Linked DNA regions of Homo sapiens: regions 2 and 3 are each linked to region 1. The links come from fine-mapping of genetic effects on gene expression. A gene starts in region 1. Each other region holds a variant in brackets. All regions are shown on one strand. Distances are from middle to middle. Region 1 holds the start of PHLPP2 (PH domain and leucine rich repeat protein phosphatase 2). Region 2 overlaps IST1 (IST1 factor associated with ESCRT-III). Region 3 overlaps PHLPP2 (PH domain and leucine rich repeat protein phosphatase 2).

What was found. PIP is the estimated chance that this variant, and not a neighbour inherited with it, causes the effect.
Region 2: its variant is fine-mapped to the expression of PHLPP2 in monocytes (BLUEPRINT, PIP 0.95).
Region 3: its variant is fine-mapped to the expression of PHLPP2 in whole blood (INTERVAL, PIP 0.92).

Annotation. Positions count from the first base shown.
Region 1 is chr16:71,719,818-71,731,093 of GRCh38, forward strand. PHLPP2 (PH domain and leucine rich repeat protein phosphatase 2) reads right to left here and starts at 4,884. Exons shown (of 19, transcript NM_015020.3): 1 at 4,512-4,884. It overlaps AP1G1 (adaptor related protein complex 1 subunit gamma 1), which reads right to left. Exons shown (of 23, transcript NM_001128.6): 23 at 9,183-11,276. RefSeq lists an enhancer at 3,221-3,722 and silencers at 3,488-4,457, 8,240-8,309.
Region 2 is chr16:71,922,015-71,927,014 of GRCh38, forward strand. It overlaps IST1 (IST1 factor associated with ESCRT-III), which reads left to right. Exons shown (of 10, transcript NM_001270975.2): 7 at 460-666; 8 at 1,274-1,366; 9 at 2,755-2,803. Among named protein-coding and RNA genes, the nearest start is that of IST1, 29 kb to the left of the region's middle. The variant A/AT (reference allele first, on the strand shown) is at 2,997.
Region 3 is chr16:71,690,326-71,701,601 of GRCh38, forward strand. PHLPP2 (PH domain and leucine rich repeat protein phosphatase 2) reads right to left here. Exons shown (of 19, transcript NM_015020.3): 4 at 194-384. It overlaps LOC124903712 (a long non-coding RNA gene), which reads left to right. Exons shown (of 2, transcript XR_007065109.1): 2 at 9,033-9,248. SNORA70D (small nucleolar RNA, H/ACA box 70D) reads right to left here and starts at 8,376; the gene lies at 8,242-8,376. RefSeq lists an enhancer at 10,629-10,688. The variant T/G (reference allele first, on the strand shown) is at 4,724.

The DNA.
Region 1 (11,276 bases):
GACAGCATCTCCCTCTGTTGCCCAGGCTGGAGTGCCGTGGCACGATCTCGGCTCACCGCAACCTCCACCGCCCGGGTTCAAGCGATTTTCCTGCCTCAGGCTCCTGAGTAGCTGGGATTACAGGTGCACAACACCATGCCCAGCTAATTTTTTTTTTTTTTTTTTTTTTTTGAGACGGAGTGTCGCTGTTGTCCAGGCTGCAGTGCAGTGGCACAATCTCGGCTCACTGCAGGCTCCGCCCCCCGGGGTTCATGCCATTCTCCTGCCTCAGCCTCCCGAGTAGCTGGGACTACAGGCGCCCACCACCTCGCCTGGCTAATTTTTTGTATTTTTAGTAGAGACGGGGTTTCACTGTGTTAGCCAGGATGGTCTCGATCTCCTGACCTCGTGATCCACCAGCCTCGGCCTCCCAAAGTGCTGGGATTACAGGCGTGAGCCACCGCGCCTGGCCACGCCCAGCTAATTTTTAAAAATATTTTTAGCAGAGACGGGGTTTCACTATGTTGGCCAGGCTGGTCTTGAACTCTTGGCCTCAAATGATCCACCCGCCTCGGCCTCCCAAAGTGTTGGGATTATAGTAGTTAGCCACTGTGCCCAGCCCAGTTTTATACTTTTAACTCTAAAAGTGTTCCATGAGGGCAATGATCAGTTCAAAGGTGATATACTATTACACACTCACATACAATAATAAGATATACATGGTATAAACAGGGTCTGGTAAAGTAACTCTCCATATTCAGTTAGTTCTGCAAGAATGTGAAATACGGCCGGGTGCGGTGGCTCATGCCTGTAATCCCAGCACTTTGGCAGGCTGAGGCAGGCGGATCACCTGAGGCCAGGACTTCAACACCAGCCTGACCAACATAGAGAAACCCTGTCTCTACTAAAAATACAAAATTAGCCAGGCGTAGTGGCACATGCCTGTAATCCCAGCTACACGAGAGGCTGAGGCAGGAGAATCGCTTGAACCCGGGAGGCGGTGAGCCAAGATCGTGCCATTGCACTCCAGCATGGGCAACAAGAGCGAAACTCCACCTCGGAAAAAAAAACAAAAGACGAAAAAAAAAAAAACAATGTGAAATACTCTTAGGTAGAAGATGTTTCTGCATTCAAAACTTTAAAACAATATAGACTCATATCTGGGAATACACACGTTATTAAATATTGTGAAAGCGGTGGGGAGGGATGGGATGAGATAGAGAAAGAATATGTCAGCGCTTTAAAAATGTTTTGGGGCTGGGTGCGGTGGCTCATGCCTGTAATCCCAGCACTTTGGGATGCCGAGGAGGGACAGCCTTTAAGCCCAGGAGTTGAAGGCCAGCCTAGGCAACAAGGTAAGACCTCATCTCTACTAAAAAAACAAAACAAACAAACAAAAAAAAAAACGTGCCTATGATCCCAGCTACTCAGGAAGCTAAGGCAGGAGGATCACTTGAGCCATGATCGCGCCACTGCATTCTAGCCTGGGCAAGAGAGAGGCTCTGCCTCAAAAAAATAATAACAATAATAACGTTTTGGGCTGGGTGCAGTGGCTCATGCCTGTAATTCCAGTGCTTTCGGAGCCCAAGGTTAAGAGGATCACTTGAGGCCAGGAGTTTGAGATCAACATAGCAAGACCCCATCTCTACAAAAATAAAAATAAAAATTAGCCAGGCATGTGCCTATAGTCCTAGCTACTTGAGAGGCTGAGGTACTTGAGCTCAGGAGTTTGAACCTGCAGTGAGCTATGATCACACCACTGCACTCCAGCGTGGGCTACACAATGAAGCTATGTCTCTAAAAAAAAATCTTTTTAAATTTTTTTTGGCATTAATTGTTTATACATACTTTGCTAAACACCCAAAACTGTTCTTGAAAAAAAAAAAATGAATCTCATGACACACACCGACATTAGCTGTAACTTCCTATCTTCTATAAGCTGAGTAAAAAAGTTAATCATTACTAAAAAAAAACCATAAACCCCAAATTGTAGGAAACACCTGGAAAATTTACAAACCTATGGTCCAGCAATTCGCTAAATAAATCTGGGGGCACATTTTGAAGGAAATTTTCCAGTATCCCAGGATAGATGGAACTGGATCTAGTCTGGCTAAGTTAGACTGGCTTAGTTATATTAGCCTTTTGAAGAATATCTGTATTATCTGACAATAATGTTCATGATTTGGTATTAGGTATAAAAGAGTTACAAAAAAGAATGAAGTTTTGGAAGGGTCTTCAGAGAAAAATGAGTGGGAGATGACTCTTCCCAATTCAGAGTATTCTACTGTAATACTTCTTTTCCAGCATCACTTGGCACAATTCAACCACTCAGCTACTTAACAAAACTGTATGAGGCCGGGCGTGGTGGCTCATCCTTGTAATTCCAACACTTCGGGAGGCCAAGGCGGGCGGATCACTGGAGATCAGGAGTTCAAGACCAGCCTGGGAAACATAGCGCAACCCTGTCTCTACTAAAAATACAAAAAAATCAGTGGGGTGTGGTGGCGGGTGCCCGTGATCCTAGCTACTCAAGAGGCTGAGGCAGGAGAATCGCTTGAACCCTGGAGGCAGAGGTTGCAGAGATCGAGTCACTGCACTCAGGCTTGGGTGACAGAGTGAGACCCTGTCTCAAAAAATAAATAAAAAGAAAAAAAACTGAGAGGCAGTAGCACAAAAAATGTTTTATATTTTACAGAGTTCTAGTTTACGTTGTTCCATGGATTCACTGGGTTCTATTATTGTTTTTCCGTGTTCCCATCTTTGTAACATCGTACTAACCTTCATAACATGTAAATACTGCTGAACCTCAATCCCAATAAACTACTAAAGGATTTTTAACATCATACGTTTTGTTTTGCAATGTATTTTTGAAACACATCAAATTTAAATTTTCTTTCCTTTCCATCCTTCTACTGGGCAAGTTTCATATCCTGAATTCCTCATGTAGAACTCTAGAAGGAATTCCATTCCACCTGCGGAAGGACACCTAGTTTACGTATTTGACCTACAGAAAAATTTCTCTGCAACTCTTTCAAATGCTAGTAAAAAACTCCACCCAGTCAGCCTCCCACAACCCCTCCCTTTAACCATCTTCTCCTCCCCACTATCGCCACCCTACCTTGTGCATTCCTTCGTAAACTTACTTCTCATCACCTTCAAGGTTCCACTCCCCTCTTGCCTACATCTGTTTTCATATCCTCCCACTCCCCCAATTCCTGCCAAGAAGCCCCGCTAGCTGCCTGTTGCATAACGGCTCCCCCATTCCGTCTCCCTCGGCAGTCGGCCCCGCTCCCGGGAGCAGGAATGCCCCTTTCGGCCCGGCCCCTCCTCCCTTCCGCAACACGCCCAGCAAGTCCCCGCGACGCAGCTCCAGCGGGGATTCTCTCTCCAAGCTGGGCGGGTCGTCCTTGCCGGCTGGCACCTCGGGTAGCGAGCCCCGAGGGCAGAGGAGCCGGCTCCACCCGGCCTGGCCCCGAACCCTCCGCGGCGCCGGCCAATCGCCGCTGCCATCCTCCCGCTGGGGTGATGTCTTCAGGTGTCCGGGAGGGGAGAAAGCCCTGCGTACTTCCAGCCCCGCTCCTGTGCCAGGAACCGGCGGCCCTCCGAGCCCTCCGGAGCCGGCCTCCGGGCCCCGAGCGCGGCGAGGCAAGCAGGGGCGGCGAAGGGTCCGGGTGGGCGGCGGCTACCCGCAGCCCAAAGGCGTGGGCCTGCGAGGCGGGCGGCGCGCGGCCAGGGATGGGCAGCAGCGGGGTACCGAGGCGCCGAGGCCTGGACGCGGGCGCGGCGCGGAGGCCTCGGCGTCCCCAGCCGGGTGTGGGGCGGCCGACTGACTGACGCCGGGCGGGGGCCGCCGACTGCCTCAGCCACTGCGCGGGGCGGGGGCGGCAGCGGCCTCTAGCCTCCCTCGTTCCCTCCCTAGTCCGCTTGCCCGCTCGCCCGCTCGCTCGCTCGCTGGTCCATCCGCCTCCTCACCTTCAGGACCCGGATCCCTCCCGGCCGGCGGCTCGCGGGCGCTTCGGGCGGCTCCGGGGGCTCCAGCGGGCCCGCGGGCCCCGGCTCCACCTCCCCCATCGGCGACCCAGGATTCACAGAGACGCCCGGCCCGCGCGACGGCGTGCGGAGCCTCGGCGGCGCGCGCGAGCAACCGGTGGCCCCGCCCCCCGCGGCCCGCCGGCTCCGCCCCTCCGGCGGCTCGCCAGCTCCGCCCCTCCCGCAGCCCCGCTGGACCTAAGCAGCTGCCGGCGCCGAGTGGCCCGGGCGCCACCGAGCCGCATTCCGGCCGCGGCCCGCGTGGCGGAACCTGGCACCACCGCAGAGCGCTGGGCCTCCACTGCCCGCCGCCCTAGGCTTGGAGGACTAGAGCGCAAGGAGGGGTATTTGCTGCTTTCCCCGCCCTCTAAGAAACCCGCGGGAGAAAGAAGCAGGTGGCGCCGGCACCTGTCAATTGTGACAAGACGCTGCCCTCCGCCAGGGTGGCTCTTGTAACTTCCCTCACCTGCCAAGCCGTTGAACGAACTGTTGAGAATACTCACCTTGGCAAGGCCTTTTCTCTTCCTTATCAGAGATGCGTGCGACCTTCTTAAGCAAATTCAACCCAACCTCGTACAAAACGTCCGCTCACCTCCCAGCCATGTTTTAATTCCCTTGCCTCCTCCTGGAGCAAAATTATCAGAATTCGGTGCTCTGCTTCAAGCAGTAATATGGCCTGTGACCCGGTTTATGATTTATTTGCAAGGCTGATTCAGAAAAAAACTTTTAAAAGTTAACTTCTTTTCTTTTCTTTGTTTTGTTTTTCTTTTCGTTCTCGCAGTGATAGTAGTTTTGTTGCCAATGGGCCAAATTTGGAGTCAGCCAGCCTGTTTCCAGATCTCCCCTCTGCCCTTCTTTAGATCTATACCCCTGTGCAAGTTACTTGATCTAAGCCTTTCGTTCTTAAGCTGTGAGAAAGAGATTAAAATCTGCCAAGTAGTTATGATGAAGATTTAGTGCATACAAAGTGCCTAACGTATAGTGGGGATCCATAGTAGCCATTATAATTCCAAAATTCTAAATTGAAGATCCAATCGGTTTCTCGAAAAGTACTCTGTCGATTCCTCCTAAATTTTCCTAGGAAGGCTTCTAGACTTCCAGATTTTTAGGGCTTCCCCTCATACATAGGGTGTTGAATCTTCAAGCAACTTGTAAGGAATTAGACAGCAAAAAACAGTAATTTCTTCACTTTCATAGAACTGTAATTCCAGTACTTTGGGAAGCCAAGGCAGGCAGATTACTTGAGGCCAGGAGTCCGAGACCAGCCTGACCAACATAGCGAAACCCTGTCTATACCAAAAATACAAAAAAATGAGCTGGGCAGGGTGGCGCACGCCTGTAATCCCAGCCACTTGGGAGGTGGAGGCAGGAGAATCGCTTGAACCCGGGAGGCGGAGGTTGCAGTGAGACGAGATCGTGCCACTGCACTCCAGCCTGGGTGACAAAGCAGGACCCTTTGTCCCTATTATCCATTGCTTCAGTTTGCCTCATTCAGACTAACTGTATGTCTAGAATAATTGCAGGCTTAGTACAAGACTTTTAGATTTAACAGAGCAGTCTGTGTCCCCCATCTGAGATATGTATCCATTTGGAGATATTTTAAATGCCAGGACCAAATTTGGCTCTTGCAGGTTCCGACCCCTTTCTGACCTACTTTCTCCCTTCACAAGTTAGCTTTGTATATACCAAAATTCCAATCTCCAGTAATCTTCATTTCTTGGCCTCATTTTAATGCATTAAAAACGATTTGTCACTGTGAGTCTGGTTTAAGGTGGGAGAAAACTCTTAGGTCATCCACCTCCTGGATTTTCCTTCCACCTTGAAATTATTTTCAGGAAAGGTACTCAAAGTAGTTGGATTCCCATTTCAGTGCTTACTGGGTAATTTCTCCCAACAAGAAAACTGGTATATAAGCAATAGGCACCAATATGGAGACAGAAGCAAATTTTAACAAGGGCAGGCAAGCAGTGATAAGAAAAAAATGTGGTTTAGAACAAGTGTTTCTGGCTGGGTGCAGTGGCTCATGCCTGTAATTCAGCACTTTGGGAGGCCAAGACGGGCAGATCACCTGAGGTCAGGAGTTTGAACCCAGCCTGGCCAACATGGCAAAACCCCATCTCTACTAAAAATACAAAAATTAGGCAGTGTGGGGGCACGAGCCTGTAGGCCCAGCTACTCAGGAGGCTGAGGCAGGAGAATCACTTGAACTTGGGAGGTGGAGGTTGCAGTGAGCCGAGATATCGCGCCACTGCACTGCAGTCTGGGTGACAGAGGGAGACTCTTGTCTCAAGGAAAAAAAAAAGTGTTTTTCAAAAGCCTTTTATATTTTTTTTATTTTTGAGACAGGGTCTCGCTTTGTTGCTCAGGCTGGAGTACGGTATGGACACAATCATAGCTCACTGCAGGTTCAACCTCCATGGGCTAAGGTGATCATGCCACCTCAGCCTCCCAGTAGCTGGGACCACAAGTGAGCACCACCCTACGCTTGGCTACTTTTTGCATTTTTTTTGTAGAGATGGGGCTTCACCATATTGTCCAAGCTGGTCTCGAACTCCTGAGCTCAAGCCATCCGCCCACTTCAGCCTCCCAAAATGCTGGGATTACAGGTGTGAGCCACCACACCTGGCTGTAAGAGTCTGTTTCTTGAGGCATTATACATTACCTTTTCCAGATTTCATGAGTAGAAGCTCTTTATTGACTGACTACACAAAAAGGAAAGATCTTGTTGCAGAACTAAAGTTTCAGCTCATGCTGGGGAACAGCAGTGGTGAATAATTGTTTAATTAAAGGGATAGTAGGCATAAGCATTGCTATTTACTTCTTCATTCTGGCAACAGTAGTTCCTCTTTCAAAAGGGAAAACATAAAAAAAAAAACCCATCCGCCCAAAAGTTTCAGGGGCTAATTTATGATGTAACTACCTTTAATGGTTCCCATGATTTAAGATCCAATTCAGTAGTGACAACCAGTTGATTTTTTTCAAATCATGTAGTGCCATTAACATTTTATACTTTGTTTCAAAGGTCACATATTGATGTTCTCCCCCAGTTCAAGGCACTGTGCATTATGTATGCCAAGGGTTATGTAACTACAATTTCTGGAAATGGTAAACAGCTGAGACTAACCCTAAAAATAAATTCCTCTGGGATTTTTTTTGTGCGAAAATCCATCTGCCCTCACTGCAGGTTCATCATTACAAAAATCACTGTTTAGCTCAAACCAAGAGACAGAGAAGTCATCATGATCTCTCCTTTCTGTCTCCTTCCTGTAGCAGCTGTGCTTCCCCTCTCTGGTATGTACACACGCACACACCTTCTTTATGCCAGGAGCTTTTCCAGATCTTCACTACAAAATGGGAAGTCTGGAGAAGGGAAGCTCATGCCTATCAGATGTTGGGAGAGGAAGCAGATGAGACTTATATTTACTTATTTATATCTAGTACGCACTCCAGTGATCCACAAAGTCATCTTTGGGCCTAAATCCCTTGTTATTCTACCAATAGGTTAAGCAGATTTGGATATTCCTAATTTTGGTTCCAAATAAACAGGCAGTGTTTACCTAGCTTCAAAGTTTGGAGAATTTTTCTGTGAACATTTTGATATTTTTCAAATATGGGGACAATTGAATTGACAATTGAAGACATAGGATAGAAAACCCTTAAAAGTGATAAAAATTAATTTGGTGCTTCTGAATTGAAATTCAGATCTGAATACTATTTGTTGTATTGTTAAATGTCTATTACTGGCTAAACTTTTCTATTTTCCTCTAATTACATGAAGGTGCCAACTAAATTTAATATTAGAAACAACTATGAATTTTAACTAACTCATACATAAGATTATAGAAATGTTGCTTATCAAACAGTACCAAAGGGCACTTCTGCATAAACTAGATAACTGCCAGGGCCTACACCCTTCCCCTTTTCAATCGGGACTATCACACTCTCCCCTTTCTCAATCAAGGGACTGTCAGGGATCATCAGAATAACAGAAAACCTAAAGCTACCAACCTCCAAAACACAGAGTTGACAGCCAGGCACAGTGACTCACGCCTGTAATCCCAGAACTTTGGGAGGCAGAGGCTAGTGGATCACTTGAGCCCAGGAGTTTGAGACTAGCTTGGGCAACATAGTGAGACCCTGTCTCTACCAAAGGAAAAAAAAAAATACAAAAATTAGCCAGGCATGGTGGTGCATGCCAGTAGTCCCAGCTACTAGAACGGCTGAGGTGGGAGGACTGCCTGAACCAGGGCAGTCAAAGCTGAAGTGATCAGTGACCGCACCACTGCACTCCAGCTGGGTGACACAGCGAGACTCTGTCTTAAAAAAAGACAAGCCAGGTGCGGTGGCTTACGCCTGTAATCCCCGCACTTTGGGAAGTTGAGGCAAGAGGATTGCTTGAGGCCAAGAGTTCAAGACCAGCCTAGGCAACATAGCAAGACCACATCCCTACAAAAGTTAATATATACAAAATACACAGTTCATATAAAATAGACCATGAAATATAACTCATTTTGACTGGTCAAGCCTTCCTCTGCCCAGTCACAGATACACTTGAAAAATTCACAAAAAGCAGCTTATAAAGAAAACCCATAACCACCCTTAATATACATTTCATCTTGGTTTCTCTGCCTTGAGAATTGACCTATGGAGATTAAGCATGAAATTAATCATATTATAGTTAAAATGTCCAATTGCACTTAGGACTTTTTTACTGTCTATAACACAAGTTTGTTGTTGTTGTTGTTTTTGAGATGAAGTTTCACTCTTGTCACCCCAGGCTGGAGTGCAATGGCGTGATCTCGGCTCACTGTAACCTCCGCTTCCTGTGGTCAAGCAATTCTCCTGCCTCAGCCTCCCGAGTAGCTGGGATTACAGGCATGCGCCACCACACGTGGCTGATTTTGTATTTTTAGTAGAGACAGGGATTCTCCATGTTGGTCAGGCTGGTCTCTAACTCCCAACCTCAGGTGATCCGCCCACCTCGGCCTCCCAAAGTGCTGGGATTACAGGCGTGAGCCACCGCGCCTGGCTACAAGTTTTTAAGTGATTCAAATTCCTCTCTTGGTGAGACTTATGTGTGAAAGGAATACTAACAGGTCAGTAAGTTAGCTCAACCTCTGGAATAAGAATTCATCTAAGTCTTCTAATCCAATTGTAAGAAGCAAGGAAGCAAATTTTAAATCATTGGGTATTGACTTTTTATTATTAGTCACTGTTCATAATTTGTTTCAACCAAAAGACAGTACACACAGCAGAATTCTAATGCATCCCATGTAAATGTTTACATCCATTTTATTCCTCACTCGCCTCTAAGACTTATCATTTAACTTTAAATTTTTTTTTTTACATCTCAAAAATATGTCTGCAATAATTAGAGCTTCATTAGCTGTCCCACTTGGAAACAGCTTTTTAATATTTTTACAGTAAAGAAGATGTGATGGGGCATAATGAAAATGTAACTTACAACACTAAGAAAGAAAAGGGCCTTTATAGGAACACAGTGGGAGTTCATAAAGGAAAGAGTTCAGAAGCTCTTTCCCATGGGGCCCCCAAATGGAAAACAAAAACAAAACACACAAAGCGCAACCGCAGGTTCTTTGAGGGAAGAAAAAAAAAAAAAAAAAAACCAACTCCAAGGCTCCATCTTGAAGCCAGAATCAGCCTCTTGGAAGTCTGTAAAGCAACTGTGCAAGCTGCTTCGGCATTTCCTTCTGTTAAAGTGTTCCAGGTCCTGGAACCCTGTCGATGGGACCCACTCACTGATATTGCTTGAAAAAGTTATTCACTTCCAGTTCTACAAGCAGCCCCACTCTCCCGAGCCAAAGCTGGTCAAAAGTGTTTTAAACTTCAGGACTTTCTGTGCAATTCTCTCTCCAATGATCCTACCCACTCCCAAAGTCATGAATACACAGACATGTAAAACCACTCTCCCAACTACAAAGTTCATGAACACCCACTTTTTCCTCTCTAGTTTTCTCAGTTTAGGACACTGTGGTTAAAATACATTCACTAGAAAAAAATAGACACATTCAAACTCCTTTCCCCTAGTTCTCATGGCCCAAATATTTTCCAATGCAGAAGATAATGAAGTTGAACCTTGAAAGCAGTACTCCCTAACTTCCAATTTCTACGACATAAAAAAAATGGGAAGCATGTTATATAAACCATTAGTGTTGGACAGTTTTAAAAGTCTATTTTCATATATGAATGGGACAAACAAGGAGTACAAATCACACCTTTAAACTAGCAAGAGGAAAGAATCCCCTCCCAAATGTTACACTGAGGAATGTTTCTTTAAATGATAAAGACCTTAAAATTAACAGATGATCACTATGCACAGCCTAAAACTTCCGTGACTGTCCAAACCACCTCAAGGTAACAGCACCAAAGCACTGTGGGAGAAGCTTCTCAGGGAGAGCACCCTTCCTACAGTTTTTTGAGATTACTTAGATGAATTAATTCTCCTTTAGGATTCCCCGGGATGGGGCAGAAACTAGAATAGAAACGACTCTTGAAGAGGGAAATAATGAAGTACAAGTGCATGTGAAATTGTCAAAGTAAGTGTGTGAGGGCTCACTGCTTATCACCCCAGGGTTATCAAAACAGCCTTGGAAAATGCTCTTTCCTCACAATGCCTGTGAAGTCGTAAATCCATCCAAATTTGCTCCCCCTTGAGTGGTTATACTCGGGAAAGGAATTATTGAAATGTGCAAGTATTCAAAGAAATTGAAACATTTCTCCATTTAGCTGCAAGGCCAAGTGAGAGGAAAACTAATTCTGATCCTAGAAACTAAGGCACGCTGAAGCTTTCAAAGATCCAATCATTTGAAACAGTCTTCACAACCATCAGTATCCTAGGCAGTTATTTGGCTGCTAGTCCTTCAGTATGGTGCTTGTGTTCTGATTCCAAAATCAATTCATATTCTACGCAGCACCCTTTGTGTTAAGGCCATGATATTTTACTCCTTCTAGACAAAGCTATGAATGATCATAAACTCTACCTCGAAACTATGATCACCCAAGGAAATGCTCTGTCAGCAGAGTAGACCCTTCCCAGCTCCATTAGCTGACAGTGTCTTATAGCATGGTCTTGAACAGATTTCTTCAGAGATTCAACCCAGTTCAAATAAAAAAACCTGAGCTGGTTAGCTACAAATATAAGAGAGAAAATAAAGCCTCTACACAAAGAGGAATGTTAAGACAAATTCTATTCAAGAAATCCACCAACATTATGTTAATCCTATCATGTTTCACAGCATTAAGTATCC
Region 2 (5,000 bases), 200 kb after region 1:
TAATCTCAGCTACTCGGGAGGCTGAGGCAGGAGAATGGCTTGAACCCAGGAGGTGGAAGAGCTTGTGGTGAGCCAAGATTGTGCCACTGCACTCCAGTCTGGGTGACAGAGTGAGACTCCGTCTCAAAAAAAAAAACCATCCGCCAGTTAAGGTCAGTGGGGTGTGGTGGATGCTTTGGTGTGTACTGCTCAGACATCCCTATTACCCACAGTTGGAAACACCATCAGGTCCATTCCAGCTGCAGAAGTCATTGGGGAATTGGCTGAGGCCTTTGTTGTGACTGTGTTGCAGCCCAACTTCTCCTTCCACCTAACTCTGCCTTTTCTTCCCCCACAGGTGTTGATCCCAGAAGCACTCCAGTAAACTTGCTTTATGCTAATCTCCATCTCAGACTCCGCTTTCTGGGGAACCTGGCCTTGGACATGGGTTAATGACCTGGGTTTCTCTTTTTTTCTCAGGCAGAAGCTCCTCCTGGGGTAGAGACAGATCTTATTGATGTTGGATTCACAGATGATGTGAAGAAAGGAGGCCCTGGAAGAGGAGGGAGTGGTGGCTTCACAGCACCAGTTGGTGGACCTGATGGAACGGTGCCAATGCCCATGCCCATGCCCATGCCTATGCCATCTGCAAATACGCCTTTCTCATATCCACTGCCAAAGGGACCAGTAAGTATATATAAGTGTGGATGTAAGCTTTAGAAAATGTTATAGATAACAAGTTGGCTCTGTGAACACACTCAGGAATCATAGGTTGTCAGGAGCCATTAGCAGTAAGAACATTTGGTATTAGCTGGCAGTCATCTTGTGGGGAAAAAACACATTGGATTCAGAGAAGGTCTTCTAGTTCAGCTGTAGGAAAATCTATAGAGTTGGTGCTAGAAAAACACTTTTCATATAGGTTTACTGAATATCTTTGGGATCTGTTATAGTCATACTAGTAGTTTTTTCCACAAATGAATAAACCACCAATTATTACCAGGCAGAACAACCTTTGTAGATAAGATGGTCATTGGTAGTAAGAAAGTCTCGTTAGAGTTTTCCCTTGTAAACACTGAAGCACTTGATTCAATAAAGAATAGCCTTTGGCTCTAGATCTTTAAAAATCTGGAATCCTGACCACATGTGGTCCTTTTGGGCATTTTTAAGGATCTTGAATATTTATATATATTTAGTATGAGAATATAAATGTATTTCTTTCTCCCTTCCCATACCCAAACCTTCGAGATTGCAAACTGGAGGCAGTGTCTCTGATGTTGCCTTTCTCCTCTTACAGTCAGATTTCAATGGACTGCCAATGGGGACTTATCAGGCCTTTCCCAATATTCATCCACCTCAGATACCAGCAACTCCCCCATCGTATGAATCTGTAAGTGCCTGAGCCTCTTTTATAAGCAACAGGAGAGTGAATGCCATGAAGAGCGAGCAAAATAATGACCACAGGGAAGGCAGAGTTTTGATCAACTCCTAGTACTGTCATCATTTTTGCTTTGGGATTCTTGTGTTGCTTTATAACACTACCCTGGAAATGTGGAGTGGGTGGTGATGGCAGTATCATTGGTGGCAATGCTTTGTCTGCAATTAAGCCAGGAATCAGGAAGGAACTGCAGATTTCTTAGAAAGTTGTAGTGCTCTATGAGGGCACTTAGCCAGTTGTTTTGACCGACTAGGCAGATAATCACACTGAGCTGATACAATCGTGGTGCTAAAGTATCATAATTATTAAAATATTAGTCCTATGTGTTCTCAACACATGTAAAGGAAGAGTGACCAGATTGATCTTAATCAGAAATGTCCAGTTACATGTCGGCCGACAGCATTGATTTCACATTTTAGTATTCTAGTTAAAATTTGCTAATGAATAGCTAATATAATACCTCGAACTGTAGGTGGTTCAGGTTACTTGTTTTTGACCAGCCTTGTTTCTTCAGTTACTGTAGGCCTTTTGAGACCTGTCTCCATCTAGTATTTTACTGAGAAACAAATTGGTGTGGCATTTGCTATGTAAATTACTCATCTAGGAAGATCTTCCTGTTCCTGAGCTTGCTTTCTGTTCTTTCCTTTGGTTCCCATCTGTAGCTGATGTGTTCTACCTTGGGCCTGAGTTTTTCTTATGCTTTGGTTTTGCATGCGTCACATAACCCACAGCCGTTGGTAGGAATGAGGTCGAAAATCTTCATCAGTATTTGAGGACTTGGTTCTTAAGATATATTCAAGAATGCTTTCCCTTTGCCCAAAGGTGAAAGTATCATTAAAGTTGTCTTAGTATGGTAAGGATTTTTTTTTCTCTGCTTGGCAGTTAAGAGTTCAACATGGGGCTGGGCGGGGTGGTTCACGCCTGTAATCCCAGCACTTTGGGAGGCTTAGGCAGGCGTTCGAGACCAGCCTGGGCAACATGGCGAAACCCTGTCTCTACCCAAAATACAAAAATTGGCCAGGCATAGTGCTGCATGCCTGTGGTCCCAGCTATGCAGGAGGCTGAGGCGGGGCAATGGCTGGAGGCCAGGAAGTGGAGGCTGTGGTGAGCCGTGATTGTATCACTGCACTCCAGCCTGGGTGACAGGAGACCCTGTCTCAAAATCAAAGGAGTTCAACATAGTATCTACCTGATTGGAAAAAATGCAGGGGCAGTTTCTTTGGAACAGGCTCTGTTGCATTTGGTGAGCAACTTAACTTTTGGAAACACAGGGGCTTACACCAGTACTTTCTCCAGTGACACTATTGCTGTCTCCTCTGGTAACAATCTTTGTGTTTCAGGTAGATGACATTAATGCTGATAAGAATATCTCTTCTGCACAGATTGTTGGTGAGTAGTATCAATCAGAAACCTGCAGAGCTCAGTGCTGAACCCTCTGCTGTTTTCTCATTATTGTTCCTCCCTTAGAGACTGTTTCCATGTCCATGGACTTCTATCTGCATGCCCTGTTCTCTTCCCAAATGCTAAAATAGAACTCAGGATATCCTGCTTCTAAGTACAAATCCTAAGTGATAGCTCAGTG[A/AT]TTTTTTTTTTTTTTTTTTTGAGATGGAGTCTTGCTCTGTTGTCCAGGCTGGAGTGCAGTGTTGTGATCTTGGCTCACTGCAAGCTCCGCCTCCCGGGTTCACGCCATTCTCCTGCCTCAGCCTCCTGAGTAGCTGGGACTACAGGCGCCCGCCACCATGCCTGGCTAATTTTTTTGTATTTTTAGTAGAGACGGGGTTTCACCGTGTTAGCCAGGATGGTCTCGATCTCCTGACCTTGTGAGATCCGCCTGCCTTGGCCTCCCAAAGTGCTTGGATTACAGACATGAGCCACTGCCCCCAGCTGATTTTTTTTTTTTTTTTTTGAGACGGAGTCTTGCTCTGTTGCCCAGGCTGGAGTGTGGTGGCACAGTCTTGGCTCACTGCAACCTCTGCCTCCCGGGTTCAGGCTATTCTCCTGCCTCACCTCTTGAGTAGCTGGGATTATAGGCACACGCCACCACGCCCAGCTAATTTTTGTATTTTTAGTAGAGACAGGGTTTCACCACGTTGGTCAGGCTGGTCTTGAACTCCTGACCTTGTGATCCGCCTGCCTCAGCCTCCCAAAGTGCTGAGATTACAGGCATGAGCCACCGTGCCCGGCCAGCTCAGTGAATTTTGTAAAGCAATCATGTTCATGTAGCTACCACTCAATTAAAAAAGTACTGGCCAGGTGTGGTGATTCACATTTGTAATCCAAGCACTTTGGGAAGCTGAGGCAGGAGGATCACTTGAGGCCAGGAGTTTGAGAACAGCCTGGGCAAGATCCTTGTTTCCACAAAAAATTTTTAAAAAACCCATCTGAGCTTGGTGGTATGGACTTGTGGTCACAGCTACTCAAGAGGCGTTCTTAGCCCAGGAGTTCAAGATTACAGTGAGTGATCATTGTACTCCAGCCTGGGGGACAAAAGTGAGACCCTGTCTTAAAAAACAAAAATTAAGATAATACCTACCAGCAAAAACCAGAGGGAAGAATACTTTTAAAATTAGAGGCCGGGTGCGGTGGCTCACCCCTGTAATCCCAGCACCTTGGGAGGCCTAGGTGGGCAGATCACCTGAGGTCAGGTGTTCAAGACCAGGCTGGTCAACATGGTGAAACCCTGTCTCTACTAAAAATACACAAATTAGCTGGGTGTGGTGGCAGGCGCCTGTAATCCCAGCTACTCGGGAAGCTGAGGCAGAAGAATCTCTTGAACCCGGGAAGCGGAGGTTGTAGTGAACCAAGATTATGCCATTGCACTCCAGCCTGGGCGACAGAGTGAGACTTTGTCTAAAAAGAATATAAATAATATTAGACAGTTGTCTTATGGAGATACAATTTACATTTTAAAAAAACTCATAGTTTTTTTTTTTTTTAGGCAGTCTTGCTCTGTCACCCAGGCTGGAATGCAGTGGCGTGATCTCGGCTCATTGCAAGCTCCACCTCCCGGGTTCACGCCATTCTCCTGCCTCAACCTCCCAAGTAGCTGGGACTACAGGCATCCCCCACCACGCCTGGCTAATTTTTTTTTGTATTTTTAGTAGAGATGGGGTTTCACCATGTTAGCCAGGATGGTCTTGATCTCCTGACCTTGTGATCTGCCCACATCGGCCTCCCAAAGTGCTGGGATTACAGGCGTGAGCCACCACGCCCGGCAAACCCATACATTTTAAGTGTATACACAGACAATTCCACTCTCTGATCAAGGTATACAACATTACTCTTACCTCAAAGTTCCCTTGTTGCCAGTCAACTCTGCCCTTCCCTCCAGAGTCAGAGCACTATTTTGATTTTTTTGTAATTTAGTTTTCCTGAATCTAGAACTTAAGGAAACATACAGTAGATGTGTGTGGGGGCATGATCTTAATATAAAATACTAGATGGAAGACTGGAAATACAGATCAGACTATTATAACAAAATAACTTGGACATTATATTCCTTTAAAAAAACTTTGCCCCCAATCCCTAAAGAATGTTGGTTCTTAAGGAAGCAGTGTTTGTTCTATCAGAATCCTATTATCACTCC
Region 3 (11,276 bases), 29 kb before region 1:
GAACAGATAGTTCTGCAACAGGATTTGGGGCATAATAGCCTCTGAACCTCTGAAACAGTCTCTGATATAATCTTTAATAATGCCCATACTGGCTTCTTTGAAAAGATATGACTAAAAGCTATGAAAAGCATTATGTGATATTTTCTTAATTAAGATGATCAAATGAAAAATAATTCATCTTTGTGAGTCTTACCTTTCCACCAACCAGAGGCAAAATGTGCATCTTTCCAGTTTGACAATCCTTCACTGAGGAAACGATAAGGCAGGTACCACAGAGGACAACTAGGCGCTCAGCCCACTTATGCAGCTGGGTCTTTCCCTTGCGTACATTATAGATGCCAGACAATAGGATTCGATCCAAACGATCCATGTGGCATGGTTTTTCTGAAAAGGAAATAATACTTCAGAATCCACCATTAAAGTAGTGTAAGAATACAGAAATGGAAAAAGAAAGCATTGTGTGTCAACATTCAACAACCTTATTTATAGATATAAGTAACCAAGCAATATAGTTAAGACAAAATTAGATCTAGTCCATCACTGAATTATATACAGTAGGAGTACCTTTGAATTTTGGTCTATGAAGCAAAATTGTACTTTGGATGCCATTGTTACATTAACCCTTCTTCCAACAGCCATATCTCCTATGTACCCAGAGAAAGGCAGTATGGTAGAGTGGTTAAGATCATGAACTCTGAAGTCAGAGATACTTGAATTTGAATGCTGGTTCTGTCACTTTGTTTACTTGAACTATTTATTCTCATTACGCTTTACTTTACTCATTTATACAGTTTGAATCTTAACACAACCTACCTTCTGGGGATTCTTATAAAAATTAAGTAAGATGGCCAGCTGCAGTGGCTCCCGCCTGCAATCCCAGCACTTTGGGGGGGCCAAGGCGGGCATATCACAAGGTCAGGAGATCGAGACCATCCTGGCTAGCACGGTGAAACCCCGTCTCTACTAAAAATACAAAAACAAAAAAATTAGCCGGGCATGGTGGCGGACACCTATAGTCCCAGCTGCTCAGGAAGCTGAGGCAGGAGAATGGCGTGAACCCAGAAGGCAAAGCTTGCAGTGAGCCAAGATCATGCCACTGCACTCCAGCCTGGGCGACAGAGCAAGACGCTGTCTCAAATAAATAAATAAATAAATAAATAAATAAATAAATAAATAAATAAATAAATAAGGAATATAAAATACTAAGCATAGTTTTAGGTACAAAAAGAACATGGAATAAATGACAACCACTATTGTTACTAATCTACCCTAGAAGGAAGAAATTAGTAACTACAGGAGTACTCTAATTTTGTACATAATCCTCCATCTCTCTGCCACTAATATGGAAAAGCTTATGGGTGGTACTTCAATCAACTATTCCGATCACGGTGGTGGAAATTCTACTTCTCATCAGAGGCCTTCATGACTGAGATACAGTGAACAAAACAGCACATAATAACAGAAAAGACGTGAAGTTCTTGGTAAGAGCACTATTAAAAGAAGTGTGCACCTGTAGTCCCAGGTACTCAGGAGGCTGAGGCAGGAAGACTGTTTGAGCCCAGGAGTTCAAGGCCAACCTGGACATCATAGTAAGACCCTGTGTCTTAAAAACAAAAAAAAACAAAACAACAACAACAAAAAGGGACAACTAACTATACACAGAAATGAGCAGGAGTAGCAGTATGAGGTGGTCCAAACAGTAACACAGAAGTTGGAAAGACTGGGTTGTACTCCTGGTATTATTACATAATTTTTTTTTTTTGAGACGGAGTCTTGCTCTGTCGCCCAGGTTGGAGTGCAGTGGCGCGATCTCGGCTCACTGCGAGCCCCGCCTCCCAGCTTCATGCCATTCTCCTGCCTCAGCCTCCCGAGTAGCTGGGACTACAAGCACCCGCCAACACGCCCGGCTAATATTTTGTATTTTTAGTAGAGACGGGGTTTCACTGTGTTAGCCAGGATGGTCTCCATCTCCTGACCTCGTGATCCGCCTGCCTCGGCCTCCCAAAGTGCTGGGATTACAAGTGTGAGCCACCGCACCTGGCCACTTAATTGTTTATACAATTAGGTATCACTTTGCCTATTTAAATTAGGTATCACTTTGCCTATTTAACTTAGGTATCACTTTGCCTATTTAACCATGTGTTTCCCATATACAATATGAGGAAATGAGCTAGATTACTTCAAAGCCTTAAAATTGTATTATTCAATAAAACTTTGTATATTAATACACTATACAGGATAAGCATTTCACCTTCTATTCTAGGTCAATCCTTTCATCTATACAGTCGTTCCTTGGTATTGGCAAGTGATTGATTCCAGGACCTCCCCAAGGATACCAAAATCCACAGATGCTATAGTCTCTTATATAAAATGAAATGGTATTTGCATATAACCTACGCACAACTTCCTGTATAATTTGAATAATCTCTAGATTACTTATAATATCTAAAACAATGTAAATGTTAAGTAAATAGTTGTTATGCCATATTTTTCTTTGTTTTTTTATTTTTTTAAAATATTTTTGATCCATTGTGGATATGGACGACTGACTGTATTCTAAATTCCACCTTCCTCAGAGAGTTTGGTTCTCCCAGATCTATATTCCTAAGTTCTAGTTCCACATTTCCAACTATCCAGATATCTCCAACTACATGTTTACCATCACTTAAAATTCAACATGCCTGGCCAGGAGCAGTGGCTTATGCCTGTAATCCCAGCACTTTGGGAGGCTGAGGCGGGCGGATCACGAGGTCAGAAGTTCAAGACCAGCCTGACCAACATGGAAACCCCATCTCTACTAAAAATACAAAAATTAGCCAGGCATGGTGGCGTATGCCTGTAATCCCAGCTACTCAGGAGGCTGAGGCAGGAGAATCGCTTGAACCCAGGAGGCGGAGGTTGCAGTGAGCTGAGATCGCACCATTGCACTCCAGCCTGGGGGACAAAGCGAGACTCTGTCTCACAAAAGAAAAAAAAGATCAACATGCCTAAACCAAGTCATCACCATCCCTGTACAGCAGCAGCTCCTTCTCACAACTCAAGCTCATCTCCTGAAGTCACCCATGCTCAAAACCTCAGAAGCAGCTTCAACTCTTGGGTTCGCTTTCTCAACTTCTCTTTTCAATCAATCATTAAGTCTTACTGATTACTCCTTCAAAAAGTCTCTCACATGAACAATTCCTTCCTATTCCCTAGTTCAGATCCTTATCAATTCACACCTGAATCACTATCCACACTGGCACCAGACTGATCTTCCCTGGGCTCACTTGGATCCCATCACTTCCTGCTACCATCTGCCAAATGACGGCTAAACTCCTGATGGAGCACCCATGGCCCAAAACAATCTGGACTCAAATTAACTGTGATTCATGAACATGCAATGAAATTTTTAATCTCCCACGGCTGCCTTCTTTTTCATTTCTGCTTAGTGAAACGTTGTCAATTTTTAAAGAACCAACTCAAATACAACTTCTTCACAAAGACTTCCCCCAATTTCTTGACATCTCTGATTTTCCAGAGAACAGGGACAGAAAACTTTCCTATCAGCTAGCAAAATATATCATATATGTATATTAGTAAAAATCTGGCCAGGTGTAGTGGCTTACAACTGTAATCCCAGCACTTTGGGAGGCCCGGGCAGTTGGATCACTTGAGGCCAGGAGTTCAAGACCAGTCTGGCCAACATGGCAAAATCCCCATCTCTACTAAAAACACAACAATTAGCTGGGCGTGGTAGCAGGCACCTGTAATCTCAGCTACTCGGGAGGCTGAGGCAGGAGAATCGATTGCACCAGGGAGGTAGAAGCTGCAGTGAGCTGAGATCATGCCACTGCACTCCAACCTGGGTGACAGAGCAATACTGTCTCAAAAATAATAAAATAAAATAAAATAATTTTTAAAATTGACTGGCTGGATCACCTGAGGTCAAGAGTTTGAGACCAGCGTGACCAACATGGTGAAATCCCATCTCTACTAAAATACAAAAATTAGCTGGGCATGGTGGCAGACACCTGTAATCCCAGCTACTCAGGAGGCTGAGGCAGGAGAATTGCTTGAACCTGGGAGGCCGAGCTTGCAGTGAGCCGAGATCATGCCATTGCACTCCTACCTGGGCAACAGAGCAAGACTCCGTCTCAAAAAATAAATAAAATAAATAAATTGACTAAACAGTGACTAAATAAAAATTTTAAACTTATGCACAATAAAAAGTAATAAATAAAATAAAAAGTTACAGGCTGGAAAAAAATTGAGTCACAAATATAGTACCCAAAAGATATATATTCAGAATACATGCAGAAGTCCTTTAAATCAATATGAAAAAAGAGAAACAGAAACATGTACAAAAATATCAATGAGTAGTTCAAAGAAACTGAAAGATCCAATAAAAATATGAAATAATTCTCAATCACACTAGTAATCAGGGGAAAAAAATTTAAACAAAGAGACCATCATTTTTTAAATTTTTTTTTTTATTTTTGAGACGGAGTCTTGCTCTGTCGCCCAGGCTGGAGTGCAGTGGCTCGATCTTGGCTCACTGCAAGCTCCGCCTTTTGGGTTCACGCCATTCTCCTGCCTCAGCCTCCCGAGTAGCTGGGACTACAGGCGCCTGCCACCACGCCCGGCTAATATTTTGTATTTTTTAGTAGAGACAAGGGTTCACTGTGTTAGCCAGGATGGTCTCGATCTCCCGACCTCATGATCCGCCCGTCTTGGCATCCCAAAG[T/G]GCTGGGATTACAGGCATGAGCCACCGTGCCCAGCCAAGACCATCATTTTATCTATCAGATTAGTAAATATTTTAAAGCCTAATAATATTGAAAGGTTATAGGCAAAGGGGTACTCTGTTATACTGACAGGATATAAAAGTGTTCTGCAGTAGTAACTATTAATATTTTAAACGTGAGTAACCTATAACCCAATAATTTCATTCTTAGAGATCACTCTGAAGGAATACAGGTGCATAAAGAGATAATTTTACTAAAATGGCTGTTTTAACCGTCCAAAACTGGAAACAAAGTAAATGTCCATCACTAAGGAGATGGTTACACAGACTATAATGCATACATGATGTCCAATACTATGCCCCTGAAAGAAATGTATACAGGGCCGGGCACAGTGGCTCATGCCTGTAATCCCAGCACTTTGGGAGGCCAAGGCCGTCGGATCACCTGAGGTCAGGAGTTCAAGACCAGCCTGGCCAACATGGTGAAACCCCGCCTCTACTAAAAATACAAAAATTAGCTGGGTGTGGTGGTAAGCCACCTGTAATCCCAGCTAGTTGGGAGGCTGAGGCAGCAGAATCGCTTGAACCTGGGGGGTGGAGGTTGCAGTGAGCCGAGGTCATGCCACTGCACTCCAGCCTGGGAAACAAGAGTGAGACTCTGTCTCAGAAAAAAAAAAAAAAAGAAATGCATACAGAAGATGGTTCTGCAAATGCTGACAAGGTAAGATCTCCAAGACAAACTCTTGGGTGAAAAAAGCATGAAGACCAATACCAAATAATACCATTTATGTAAACAAAATCCATATGGTTCTATGAATATATACTATATAAAAATAATCAAGTTGGAAAATTCTGAACAGATATACACCAAATTGATGGTGGTTATCTATAGAGCAGTTAATGGACTTAGGAGGTGATTATAACAAATTAAAACACCACAGATAATGACACCATAGTCATATTACACTTGTGTAGTTAAACACCCAATGTTTTAAATGCAAAAATATATGAACAATAAATAAAAATATAAAATATGCATATAAAATAAGACTAAGAAAATACACAATCATAAAAATAATTGTATTAGGGTGGTGGAATGTTTTTCTACCACGTTACTCCTATATTTTAACAAAGAAGCTTTAAATATGCAAATTAACATGAGATAGTATTTTTGCAATCGGGGAAAAGATGATACCTGATGTTGTCAAAGGTGTAGGGAAATAAGTACTCTCAAATTCTACCAAATCAACTACACACTAGTAACACCTATTTGTGCAACTTGGGAATGCTCAGTCAAAATTTTAAATGTGGCCGGGCGCAGTGGCTCACGCCTGCAATCCTAGCACTTCAGGAGGCCAAGGTGGGCAGATCACCTGAGGTCAGGAGTTCGAGACCAGCCTGACCAACATGGTGAAACCCTGTCTCTACTAAAAATACAAAAACTAGCCAGGCATGGTGGTGGGTGCCTGTAGCTCCAGCTACTTGGGAGGCTGAGGCATGAGAATTGCTTGAACCCAGGAGGCAGAGGCTGCAGTGAGCTGAGATTGCACCCGGCCTAGACGACACTGCACTCCAGCCTGGGCCACAGTGAGACTCCATCTCAAAAAAAAAAAAAAAAATTCTACTTGTAAGAATCATGTCCTCTTCCCTGCACTCCTCAGTCACTCCCTTGACTTTTATAATAATTTCCTTGCTCTCTTTATATTTTTGCCACTTTCGTATATATCCTGTATTAACTATGGCTGTAGCAAACAATATAATGGCTCAAGCAACAGGAATTTAATTCATTCAAGTGAGCATTCTGTTTTGCCAGGGGTTAACACTGTCATTCAAAAACTCAGGTTCTGGCCACGCACAGTGGCTCACACCTGTAATCCCAGCACATTTGGGAGGCCGAGGTAGGCGGATGACTTGAGGTCAGGAATTCGAGACCTGGCCAACATGGTGAAACCCCATCTCTACTAAAAATACAAAAATTAGCCAGCTGTGGTGGTGGGTTCCTCTAATCCCAGTCACTCAGGAGGCTGAGGAAGGAGAACTGTTTGAATCTTTGAGAGGCGGAGGTTGCAGTGAGCTGAGATGGCACCACTGCACTCAAGCCTGGGCGACAGAGCAAGACTCTGTCTCAATAAATAAATAAATAAATAAATAAATAAATAAATAAATAAATAAAAAGAAACTCAGGGTCTGCAATTTTCCACACTTGACTTCAATTATTGCTCTGATTATTGCCATCCTAGCCCACCAGACAGGAAAAGAGCACCACAGCCCTGAGAAGCACACACTGGGGGTTTTAGGAACCAGGTAGAAGTGGCGCACATCAAGTCCACTCCATACAATGGAAGAAAATTTTGTCACATGTACACACCTAACCGCAAGAAAGGCTGCGAAATGGGCTGTAGCTAGGCAGTTATATGCCCCACTACAATTTTGTTACTATGAAAGAACAGATTTTGATAAACAATAGTATTGCCACACATTTCAAAATAATATGGCTGTGTTTTAGCCTGTTTTCTGAACTTTAAATGAATGGAAATATACGATGTAATTCTTTTGCGTCTGGCTTCTGATGTTTGTATTTATGCTCTTTTGACAAAGCTGTTTTAAACAATATGTGCAGAGAATGCAGTACACAGAGAAACGTTCAGGCAGGGAGTTGTGCTACCTGAGCCATACAGTCCCAGAGCTACAACTTCCCTCACAAATCATACCCTCTATATGCCACTTTCTCCAACGCAAATAAGAGGTTTGCTCTTTCTCTCTCTCTCTCTCTTTTTTTTTTTAAGGTGAACAGGAAGTAGGATTTTTTTTTTTTTTTTTGAGATGGAGTCTTGCTCTGTCGCCCAGGCTGGAGTGCAGTGGCACCATCTCAGCTCACTGCAAGCTCTGCCTCCCGGGTTCACACCATTCTCCCACCTCAGCCTCCAGAGTAGCTGGGACTACAGGCACCCGCCACCACGTCCAGCTAATTTTTTGTATTTTTAGTAGAGACGGGGTTTCACTGTGTTAGCCAGGATGGTCTCAATCTCCTGACCTCGTGATCCGCCTGCCACAGCCTCCCAAAGTGCTGGGATTACAGGTGTGAGCCACCGCGCCCGGCCCAGAAAGTAGGATTTATTGGTGAGCATTAAGAGGGGGCAGCACAGTGGAAGCCCTCACAAGAGCAGGGCCCGCCACTTGTCCAGAGGGCCACTACTGGGGATGTAACTGACCCCGCAGCCATCTGGGATGAGCTGCTTCTCAGCCCCCATGTCTTCAAATTCATCTGCATTGAACTTGGTAAAGCCCCACTTCTTAGAGATGTGGGATCTTCTGGCAACCAGGGAACTTCAACTTGGCCCTACATAGGGCCTCAATCATGTGCTCCTTGTTATGCAGCTTGGTGCAGATGGACATGGTAACTTGGCCAATGTGAACCTCGGCCACAGTGCCCTGCGGCTTTCCAAAGGCACCTCGCATACCTGTTTGGAGCCTAGACTGGGGATAGCACAAAGTCAGAGACATGAACATCCATCTGAAAGGCCTGTCTCTAAGGTCCCTTAGAGCAACCCATACAAGAAACAGGCTGAGTACGCTACCAAGGAAGCTGCTGTGGGCAGCCATTGTACACTGGGCCTCCCTGAGGAAAGGAACTCAGTTGGCTTAACTGTCTGCAGAGGATTTACATGCTCTCTTAATCCCATGATTAATCATGCTACCTACTCAACTTGACTTTAGTGAAATGTTATCTCCACAGCTTTTATATCATGAATTCGAACTGAGAGAGCCATTCCACTCACTTTTCCCCCAGCACTCCCTCTCCAGCAAGACTGATAACTGGCATTTGCATAATGGCTGACTGGGACACTACCCAGTGTCCTTTTATAACCAGAGAACACAACATTAACTGGTTCGCACTCGGGCCCTTATGACCTTGGCTTTATTAACACTATATTCCAAATAAGCTGATGCACCAAAAATTCTACACATAAAATATTTGAAGCTGATTACTAAGCTATTTACTTCAAAGAGAATACTTCAACTCTTTCCTTCCGTAACAATAGTTGTGTCTGGTTTCAGGAACTGGGTGGTTGGAGGAAAAAGGTGAGAGGGAAGCATATTTTCTATGATAGTTTTGATAGAGACAGGAGGCAGAGAAATTCTAGGCAGACAGGGACAGGTGCCCAGCAAAACCCCACCTTCGAGCCAAAAAGCCTGAAACCTGTGGCCCAAAGTGAGAATTTCCATCCCTGTTTGTCTGCTCTCTCCTGAATGGTTCTTTCTGAGTGTCTTTTTACCAATCGAATGTTGCCTTTTCCAAAACTACCTACAGCACCTCCCATCCTGTGCCCATGAAGACCCCAGACTCAGCGAGCAGAGAAGAGAAGCAGCTGGACATCAGGGAGAGGCGACTTGACTTCAGAAGACAGTGGCAGGGAGGCAACTTGACTTCAAGGGAGAGTGAGCTGCCCTTCCCATTCCCTTTCCAGCTCCACTCTTCACTGAGAGCTGCTTTCATCATTCAATAAAATTCTCCGCATTCACCATCTTTCAATTTGTCCACATGACCTCATGCCTCTTAGGCACCAGACAAGAATTTGGGACGCACCAAGTGCCGGTATTCAAAAAGGCTGTCACACTGGCCCTTTACCCTCACTGGTGGAAAGCAGCCGCCCTACGCAACAAGGCAAAGGGACCACTGACCTGGTAACACATTGCCGTCTGCAGATGAGAGAGGTAAGAGAGCATTATAACATGTCCTCTGGGGCCTTGGGATCACAGACACCCCCACCTGGACGCTGCTGCAAGCCTACACAGAGTTTGCTTCTGCTGGTGCTAAAGCAGGCAGCCAGTTCCTGCACTCGCTCTCCTATGCGCTACATCCCACAAAGGGTGGAGCACAACAGACCCCAGTGAACACGGTTTGTTCCCACCAGCGTCCAATCAGCTAGCCAGTTCACGCACTCATTCACCTGCGCATTCCCTCCCACAAGGGGTTGAGCGGGGTGGGCTGAGTAAATGGGGTACCCCTGTCACAAGTCCCAAAGAGGGGTCAAGAAAATATCCTGCATCAGTTTTATTATAGATCCGGCTGCTCACAGTGGCTCGTGCCTGTAATCCCAGCACTTTAGGAGGCCAAGATAGGAGGATCACTTGAGCCCAGGAGTTTGAGACCAGCCTCGAGCCATGAGCAACATGGCGAGACCTCAGCTCTACAAAAAATACAAAAATTAGCCAGGTGCAGTGGTGCGCACGTGTAGTTCCAGCTACTTGGGAGGCTGAGGTGGGAGAATCATTTGGGCCCAGGAGGTTGAGGCTGCAGTGAGCCATGATGGCAGCATTGCACTACAGCCTAGGCAACTGGGTGATACCCTGTCTCAAAAAAAATAAAAAATTAAAAAAAAAAATAGACCCACAAATTCTTTGACACTCCTTTCAAAAACTGGAGCTAATTCCTCTCTCTATAGTATGGGCTGTGTTTAGTGACTCATTTCTTTTTTTTTTTTTTTTTTTTTTTTGAGACAGAGTCTCGCTCTGTCACCCAGGCTTGAGTGCAGGGGCACGATCTCGGCTCACTGCAAGCTCTACCTCCCAGGTTGACGCCATTCTCCTGCCTCAGCCTTCCCAGTAGCTGGGACTATAGGTGCCCGCCACCAGGCCCAGCTAATTTTTTGTATTTTTAGTAGAGACAGGGTTTCACTGTGTTAGCCAGGATGGTCTCAATCTCCTGACCTTGTGATCTGCCCGCCTCAGCCTCCCAAAGTGCTGGGATTACAGGCGTGAGCCACCGCACCTGGCCTGTGACTCATTTCTTAATAAGTAAAAAGTGGTAAAAGTAAAGGTGACTTACAAAGCTTGGTTATAAAAGACACTGAGGCCTCTGTGCACGTGCATGCATGTGTGTATACGTGTGTCTCATCACTGGGGAAACTAGCCACTATGTTGTGAAGACGCCTAGGAAGCCCTATGGAAAGATCCACAGAAGAGGGAACTGAAGCCTCCTACCAGCAGCTGGTGAGGAACTGAGGCCATGTGAGTGAACCGTGTTGAAAGTGAATCTTCCAGGCCTACTCAGGCCTTCAGATGACTAAAATCTCATGAAACCCAAGCCAGGACCATCCCTCCAGCTAAACTGCTCCTAGATTTCTGGCCCACAAAAACTATATAATTATTAAGTATTAATCATTTTAAGTCCTAACTTTTGAGGCAATTTGTTACAGAGCCAACAGATAACTAATTCATCTATCTATCTATCTATCTATCTATCTATCTATCTATCTATCTATCTATATATCTATCTACCTACCTACCTACCTACTACCTACGTTTTGTTTTTGGTACCAGGTACATTATTACTTTTCAAAGATTATTAACTTTAAGTTTCATCCCAAACTTAATTTCCTCACTCAAACCATACTAGCTTTTCTATGTCAACAGAACTCACTTTTGGAAAGATCCCTCAAAATTTAAGTACTACAAACTGGTACTCTTTTAGACTCTACTGGAAATATCCTCTTAAGGGTATAGTACATTAAGATCCTGCATATGCTGTCATTTATCAGATGGTGGTAGGAAA